Linked DNA regions of Homo sapiens: region 2 is linked to region 1. Evidence: fine-mapped expression QTL. A gene starts in region 1. The other region holds a variant in brackets. All regions are shown on one strand. Distances are from middle to middle.

Region 1 (4,387 bases):
CTTATACACCACAGCAGTTCAATAGTAGCAAAAGAGTCGATTAAACAAATATCAGGGAGCCTGGCTCTATCCCCTAACCAGTGTCTAGCCAAATGATACTGGGCGAGAAACCTCTCTATACCTCAGTCTCATTTGTAGAATGGAGGTATTATATTACAGGGTCTTTCTCTGCCACCCAGGCTGGAGTGCAGTGGCACAATCATGGCTCACTGCAGCCTCCACTTCCTGGGCTCAAGTGATTCTCCTACCTCAGCCTCCTGAGTAGCTGGGACTACAGGCGTGAGCGAGCACACCAAGCTGAATGGGGATATTACTAATAGTCCTCTGTAAATAGGGTGGTTGGGAGGCTTAAGTGAAATATAAGCTAATCCTCAGGATAATGTCTGGTATAGTGTGGGCACTCAGTAAACACCTGAGGAGCTACATTCCAAAAAAGGCTTAGATGGTGAATATGAGTGAGTAAAAAGGGAAAAGTTATCCAGTGAGAGAAACGGGCAGTGAACAGTGGGAACACTGGATAGAGGAGGGCCTCCAATACTTCCTGAAGGACAATAAAAACAGCACTTGGAAAAATAACTGCAGTATTGGATGTGAGGGGAATTGGAGGCAGTAGTCGTGCCAAGACCTCAACTACTGATTAAAAGCAATAACGAAAATGTTAGGCCGGGCGCGGTGGCTCACGCCTGTAATCCCAGCACTTTGGGAGGCTGAGGCTGGCGGATCACGAGTTCAGGAGATCGAGACCATACTGGCTAACACGGTGAAACCCCGTCTCTACTAAAAATACAAAAAAAAAAAAAAAAAAAAAAAAAAAATTAGCCGGGCGTGGTGGCGGGCACCTGTAGTCCCTGTTACTCGGGATGCTGAGGCAGGAGAATGGCATGAACCCAGGAGGCGGAGGTTGCAGTGAGCCGAGATCGCCCTACTGCACTCCAGCCTGGGCAACAGAGCAAGACTCCGTTAAAAAAAATAAAAATAACCAAAATGTTTGCACAAATGATAATAAATATTCCTACACAGTCACCATTTTTTTTTAGACGGAGTCTTGCTCTGTTACCAGGTTGGAATGCAGTGGTGCTATCTCGGCTCACTGCAATCTCTGCCTCCCGGGTTCAAGCGATTCTCCTGCCTCAGCCTCCCGACTTCAGGCGTGCGACACCACGCCCAGCTAAGTTTTGTATTTTTAGTAGAGACGGGGTTTCACCATGTTGGCCAGGATGGTCTTCTTCTCTTGACCTCGTCATCCGCCCGCCTCGGCCTCCCAAAGTGCTGAGATTACAGGCGTGAGCCACGCGCCCGGCCTCACAGTCACCATTATAATTTATGTAAGGCTAAGATCATACCTTTTTCCAGCCATCCCCAAATTTCACTCCTGACTTCCTCCAAATAATTTAGAGGAACAGGAAAATGAGTAGAGAGGGTTCATTGTTCGCTGGGTCTAAAAACAGATCTAAAAATAGCCTGCCCCTTTCAAGGCTCGGGTTAAAGGGGCTGACTCAGTTCCACCGGACATTTGTTCCTCACAAACCTTCCAAAGTCCCTGCCTCTGGCCCTGGGAGATCGAGGCTCTCGGAGTCAGGCTCTATGGGACTCCCTAGGGAGAAGAGGGAAGAGGGATGGTAGAAAAACAGGGGACGACTCCGAGGCCCAAGTCTCTTTCAGATGCCCTCCAAGCTCGGGATCACGAGGGGACGAACCCCAATTTCGTCCCGTGCCCCGGCAGAAGCCACCCTGCACTGCTTCTTTCCCCAGGCTGGGAAACCTCCAAGGACTCTCCCCTCTGGGTCCTTACTCACGCGCACGTGTTCGGAGCTCCGCAGGGCGCAGCAGCACCGGCAGAGGCCGGAGGGGAAAGGGCAGCCGGGAGCCGAGGGGAACCCCGCCCCGGGGCGGCTACTGGGCGTGGCTTCGGTGGGCGGGGCCCTTGACCCCGCCTAGGAAAGGCCGGGCTTTAAAAAAAAAAAAAAATGCGAGTGCGGTGGCAGAGGTGAACCTGCTTCTTAGAGGAGAGAAGGGCTGGGGTCTGAGCAATGGCTGGGTTTGTTGGACTCCCATCCCATCTCTTAAGGGTAGAAGGGGCGCATAGTTCGCAGCTGCTCAGGAGAGAATCTGTGTGTCCTAGTGGAGCCAGGCTTCCTGCCTGCCCACACTGAGCGCCCCCGGAACGCTGGTTCCGCTCACGAGCGTGGCGCCTTTCCGTTGCTGCAGGCCCAGCCCACGCTTTTGCGCTTCCCACGCATATCCTTTTTCTGGCTTTCTGCGGCAGCGCTGTCATTCGGCTAATGGATCGCTCACCCACGCAGGTCACCTTGGTCCACGGTCTTCGGGATCTTTCCAGGAGGTTTTCGAATAGATTAAGCCAGTCACTCCTACTGCTGACCTCTGCAGGACCGGCCTCCCTAGTGCCCTGCAGTGGGATTCTTCGCCGAGCTGCAGTAACTGAAGAACACTGGCTTTCTCTGCTAGACTTGCCCTGCACCATGGCACAGTCAGGCAGAGTCCTTGGTCAGGACAGACTGCCTGCAAGGCTACCAGGATTTCTTTGGAACACTAAAACTTCCCTCTCCCAGTGGCTAGAGTCCATATGATTCTGCTGGGGTCCAGAGTGGAAGGCCTACAAGCAGTGATTCCCAACTCCATTCTCTAATTCCCCCAAATTCCTTTCCGACACCCGCCCCCCAACAACAACAACCAATCCTGTAAGTTTTGCTGATCTCTTGCACCTGGCACCATTGCCAGGTGAACCCCTGGGAACCAAGCCACTGCCCTTGGCATCTGCCAACATGTTTCATTGTCTATTTCCTCAGCTCTTTCATAATGAAAAAGGTATGCTTCTTGTGCACCCCAACTCTTGCAGACCTCTCCTAAGAAAGCCCAGAGCCCCAGTTTGATTCCAGCAAGAGACCCTAGGCTGTAGGGCCAAAGAGCCACTGGAGGGGAAGTGGCAAGCTCAAATCCTCCCCAGTTTTGATGCAGTTGGACATAGGCTCTGGTTGGGAAAAGGCTTACATAAATACAGTAATTTAAAAAGTCACATGACCAGTGCTGGGCTGGTAGGCAGGAGCTCTGCTTTGCAGTTAAATAGGAATGTGGCTGAAGACTGCTGCCATAATCAATGCCCACATCCGGCTGTCACAGCGTGTTCATAAAGGAAGGTTATGAGAGCTATAAAACCAGGCAGATTGGGTGGGTAATTGTCCTACCGAGCTCTGCTAAAGGAGAAATTGCATTGGCATCTCATATATTTCGCTTTCTTTCCTTCCAAACACACAAAGTGGAGAGGGCAGAGCTACCCTGAAGATTCATGAAAAGGAAAGATAGGGTGTGTGTGTGTGTGTGTGTGTGTGTGTGTATGTGTGTGTGTGAATGTGCATGTGTGCTTTCAGAGAAGAGACAAGAAGTAACTGAGGACAGGGAGCTATGCAGACCTTTGGGGAGAGAGGGACCAATAATCTGGTGATGACTGGATTCAGATTAGTCCAGGTAGAAGGCAGGATTTATGTGGAAGGCCAGCCATTATAAATAAGGCTGTGAGGTAAGCCATATTTTCATGTCCTGTTGAACAAGTGGTCAACTTTTTGGGCTATAGGTCTTTCAATGACCTTTGGAGAAAAACCTAGATGAAGATTTTGTTTCCAACTTAAAAATCCTTCATAGTCAACCTTTTTGACTTCCATCCTTTTAAATTCTGAATTAATTTTGATGGGTTGATTTATGTTTTTTTTACCTGTAATATCAACTATTTTTCTACTTTTTTGTTTCTTCTTGCAAAGACAAAATTATTGAGAATAATAACAAAAAATAAAAGGGAACATTTCTAGAAAAAAAGATGCAGCTAGATGGAAAGCAAAGGACTAGGGGAAGTCCATTAGCTCTGAGTTTGACCTCATAACTTAAAGCTGACCTCAAGTGACACCAGGTCCCCAAGCTTCTTCCCTGCCTTTCTCTTTATCCTCCATCTCTCCTCTCATTCCTGCTTCCCTCCTTGATGCTTTCTGCCTCTAAGACTGCTCTTTTTCTTTCTCCCTGAACAGGGAGAAAAACCACCAGTAGAGAAATATCTAGTCATTTGTTCAGTTAGTCAGTCACTCAGTCAATCAACATTTACGAAACATCTATCATGTGCCAGACTCTGTTCAGATGCTGCAGATAAAGTCAGAACAATAGAGATTCCTGCCTGCCTAAAGCTTACAGTCTAGAGGAGAAGAATGACAAGTACTATATGTATACTTGGTCACATGTCTGGGGGCAGCTAACATAGCCTAGGGGGTCAGGAAGAGTACTAGAGATAGCTGTATTCTCTCTGGCTGATCCTAAGGGCTTAGAGTAGAGGAGGGACCCCTCCTCCATCCCTGCACTCCTCTTGCTGCTATGTACTAGCTACCCA
Region 2 (4,387 bases), 730 kb after region 1:
GAAAAGACGACGACCCCGGTCCTCTCTCTTTAAGAACCACCCCCATTCGAGCCTGACGGGGGCTCTCAGTAAACTCGCGAGAGCCACCGGCTTCCGCCCGCTTCCTCCTCTCGCCTTGCCGGGCCGGAAGAAAGGTGGCACCTCCCACCCCCCAGCCTTACCTCACAAGGCGGCGCGGACCCAGCTGCAGCCAATCGGCGGGCTCATTGTAGGCTGCGGGGCAGAGAGCCAATGAGAAGTCGCGGCGGACGCCCAGCTTCTCCTCACTCGCACCGGCCCCCTCCCTTCCGCCTGCCGCCTTCCACTCCGCCCCTGGCGGAGGAAGTGATGTCACAGGCCCCATGTGAGCGGATTGCAACACATGCAGCTGCCTGGAGAGAGGGAGCCGGTGTCCTACGTCAGAGCCGCCGCCGCCGCGGAGCCGCCGCCGGGGAGGAGCAGCCGCTGCCGCCCAGGACTGGGCCCTTAGGTAAGGCACAGGGAGGGAAAGGCCGGTGACCTTTGTGGCGAGCTGCACCGGACGGGAGGAGAGGGCCTCTGGGGGATGGCGAGGAAGGGGGCCGCTCTGCCCCAGCGGCGGCGCTAACTCTGTGGTCTTGGTGTCTCCGGGCCCCGCCGGGCCGCTCTAGGGAGGAGGAGGCGAGAAGATGGCGGACGACCCCAGTGCTGCCGACAGGAACGTGGAGATCTGGAAGATCAAGAAGCTCATTAAGAGCTTGGAGGCGGCCCGCGGGTGAGCGCCGCGTCCGGCACCCTCCGTGCCCTCTTGGTTCCCGGACCCCTCAGGATGGACGCCCCCGCGCCGCATGGCCGGATGAGGAGAACCAGGCACTAGCCAACTCCCGCCTTCTGGATCTCTGGGTAGTAGCCCCTGACCCAGGGGCGAGGGTCGGCGCGGTTGGCCCGAGAAGGGGTCCTTTCCCCGCATGGGGGTAAGGGGCCCGCGCTCCCCGGTTTAGATCACTCGGCCCCCCTCGTGGTAGGCCACCGCTACTTTTGCACCTCTCCCGGGCCCTTAAGTCCAGGTCCTCCCTCTTCGGGCTCCAGGTGCTGCCACCCGACTCGGGTGCTATTGTGGCAAAGTGTTCGGCCTTCCTTTCCCAGGGCCCTTCCCTGATTTCCTCTTCTCCCTTCATTTCTCAGCCAGGCCTCATTAAAATGGCCTCTCCCTTCTGGGCTTCTGAGACCCGGGTGGGTGAAGTTTGGATGGGACGGGAAGCAGAGGTGGCCAGGGACAGCTTCTTTCTGATTCCTGATTTCTCTGGGTCTTCCACCTGTCCCAAGATGACTTCTCCCAAGTCCTCTAATTACCCCGGAGCTTCCTGGTTTTAGCTGTTCCAGGACCCACCTATAAACTGAAAATGCCAACGTACGCGCGATGTGAGGGGTGCTGGGTAGGTTTTGGTTAATGAATCTGCATGTGTATGTCCAGGAGAAATACGGGTTAGGGGGCCGTTTGATAGGAATCATAACTACAGAGTCCCTGCTGGCATTTCTCTGAAACTTGTGGGGATATCGCTGTAGAGAGGCGCCTGATGTGCTTGATGCTTGTTGAGTGAGATTCATAATTGAATTAAATGGGCTTTGAGTCTTGTACATTTTGATAAGAAACTGTAGGTGTGTCCATTGGGGGGAGAGTAGGCTAGATTAAAATTAGCTGTGTGTGTGTGTTTTCTTTTTTTTTTAACGTTGTTCGTTTGAGGAAGGTGTGCCAGGGGTATTCCTGTTTCTTTTATTACTTTATTTTGTTCCTTTCCCAGTCATAGAAACTTTTTACTTACAGGAAGTGCCCCCCCCCCC[A/CA]AAAAAAAGTGTTTGGAACATTATTACATACTTGTATGTCTGAGCATTCTTAGAATAGTAGAATGGCCTGCCTCAGGCCATGTGAAAAGTTGATTTCAGCACAAGAATTTGACATTCTGGTTTCCAGCCCAGGATTGTCATTTATGGGTAGATTTGCAATTTTAGAATGACAGCCCCTCCAAGCTCTTCATTATTACTGTTATATGAAACAGGATGTGCTTAATTGTACTGAAGGCCCAATTCACAGGTTGGTTTTACTAGTGTTTTGTTCTTAATAAATTAGGGACAGTTCTGTTTGGAATGAGGCTTCTAAAAGTTTGGCCCCATTCAGTGACGGGCTTGTGCTCACTCCTTCGGTTTACTGGAGAAACGTTAGTTTAATATGAATCGAAGACAGCGGCTTGTTAGTCCTTAGGTTTTTCTTTGAATTCAATAGAATATCCAGACCTTCTTAATGATCTTACAGGAACTTGTGCCGTATGATAGAGTGACCAGTTATTCCCAAAATGTGAGAATACTGTACAGAAAGGGTAACATAGGTCACGACCCATTATGTTGCACTACCAAGAATTAGCCAGGTTCTTTTGTTTCAGTAGGATCTTGTTTTGTTACTTGAAGCCTTCAATCCAGTATTGCATTTTATAGATTGCTGTTGTTGCAGTATTGTATATAGGTGGATGTGACCTCTGGATTTGTTCTTACTGCTTTCAGTAGCAGGCAGGTTTACACATTTTAATTTGCATACGTTATATTCTCTGAAACAGTCCAAAAAATTAAATCATGACTATAATTTGCCTGTTTGAATGAAGTAACATTGAAGATGACATTGCTTAATAAGTAACAGCATTCCTTTCTACTGCTTAATGAAGGAAACTCATTCTTAAATTTGTTCTACCCATGTTACCTAGCCACTAGAAACTTTTAAGCGCCTCTTTAAGGCTTTTGAAGGCTTTACCTCTTTGTTTAGCAAAGTTCAGTAAAGTTTAAAGCATGCTAAAAATGAAGTTATAAGACACAACTTGTATTTCAAGTTGTTGAGTTTGGATATTTCAGACATGATTAAGCTGTCTAAAATAGCTGGAGGACCTTCCGCTACACATTGTGGTTAATAATCATGTCCTACTTTGCTTTTAATCAGGATTTGGTTGCATCTTGATCCCATGGAAATTTAAAATCTTGGCCATCTCTGAGTATTGGTAAGGGAGTCAGAAGATTCCCCAGTATATACCAGTTTTTGGAGGTGGGAATATTTTCATTGCCAACTTGTGTTAAAGTCAGACTCTAGATTTTCATAGATAGGGTACAGTGGAAAATGTTATTCCTACTTTACCTAGTGATAAAATATCTTTAGAAGAATTGTAATGGGCTTTAAAGACTTAAGTGGATGGCAAAATGAATCTGTATTTGCTGATGTTTTGGGGATACTCTGGTTTTCAGGAGGAAACTGAGGTTTTCAGGCATGGTTATTAGGACAAGGTAGTGAGACTTAGTGGTTGAGTAACAGTATTGTTTTGGAAATGAAAAAGCCCTTTCCTCCCCTTAGCAGTGTAGAATTCTAGGCATAGGAATCATGGATTTGTTTTTAACAGTAGTTATTAAAATATGCTAGAATAAGAGTGATTTTGAAATTAAGATAATCCTATGTGGTTATCTCTTGATATATGACCCAAATTTAATGTAGCTTGAAAAAGGAACCACCTGCAAAATGGGCTCACTAACTACATCTGAATAAAGGGAAGTATGTTGGCAAAATAATTTATTAAGCACATACTATATTATAGACTGTGCTACAGTACATTATTAAGTCATTTAATCCTCACAAGTATTGCCACCATTTGGTAGACAAGGCACCTGAGGCTAAGAGATAATTTGTCCAAGATGTCACAGCAAAAATGTAGCAGAGTTCAGAACTTAAACCAATGTGCTATAATGGGTATATTTTATTTTCAGAAAATACAAAACTAGATTTCCTTAAAATGTAGTCTGAGCTATAACAGATTCTATTTTATGTTACACGTGTGTAGAAGAGCATTTATAGAGGCCACATTACTAAAATGGGGAACTTCATAGCATTCTGTTTTGTAACCAGCATCATACTTAATCTTCTGAGTTGAAAGGAGTGTCACACATAAACTTGATTTTTGATTTGGGTAGAACATGCTTATTTGGTTTCAGATAAGCCTGGTCGAATGTTAGTTTGTGTGTGCTAGTAAAATAACCAGTTAATTATTTTGGTAGACATAGGCCCCACTTAAAGTTGATGGTAGTTCTTCCCTGTTCATGATTGCTCCTGGTATATGCTCCACAGTTGGCTTATGAAGGACAAATGTATACATAAACCAATACTGTGGTTGAGGGTATCTTGAATAAGGAACTAAAACAGGTCAACGTATGTTGGAAAAAGGGGGAGAATTATTGGTTGTTTTTTCCCTTGGTGTTTTCTGAGCAGGCAAGAGGTGGCCTCAGAAATAATGTTGGACACCTTATAGTTTTAAGGTAATGTTAATAAAATCATAACTAGAGCCTGTGCTAGCCAGGGACAGTGGTGAATGTGACAAAGGAATGGACAGTGTTAATTTGGGTTAGG

Direction of the effects. Positions count from the first base shown, and alleles are read on the strand shown. Sizes are in standard deviations (SD) of each study's normalised expression.
As copies of A replace CA in region 2, the expression in monocytes after Pam3CSK4 of the gene that starts at base 1,857 in region 1 goes down (large effect, 1.5 SD a copy in Quach 2016).

The links.
Region 2: its variant is fine-mapped to the expression of SNHG4 in monocytes after Pam3CSK4 (Quach 2016, PIP 0.95).

Annotation. Positions count from the first base shown.
Region 1 is chr5:139,271,571-139,275,957 of GRCh38, reverse strand. It overlaps SNHG4 (small nucleolar RNA host gene 4), which reads right to left and starts at 1,857. Exons shown (of 7, transcript NR_182757.1): 1 at 1,797-1,857; 2 at 1,344-1,594. LOC124901081 (a long non-coding RNA gene) reads left to right here. Exons shown (of 4, transcript XR_007058956.1): 4 at 2,304-2,891. It also overlaps a transcript of MATR3 not described here. RefSeq lists a silencer at 1,784-1,863 and an enhancer at 2,154-2,503.
Region 2 is chr5:138,539,179-138,543,565 of GRCh38, reverse strand. It overlaps ETF1 (eukaryotic translation termination factor 1), which reads left to right and starts at 330. Exons shown (of 11, transcript NM_004730.4): 1 at 330-469; 2 at 630-733. The coding sequence starts at 648. RefSeq lists enhancers at 1-169, 1-678, 1-819 and a silencer at 460-509. The variant A/CA (reference allele first, on the strand shown) is at 1,801.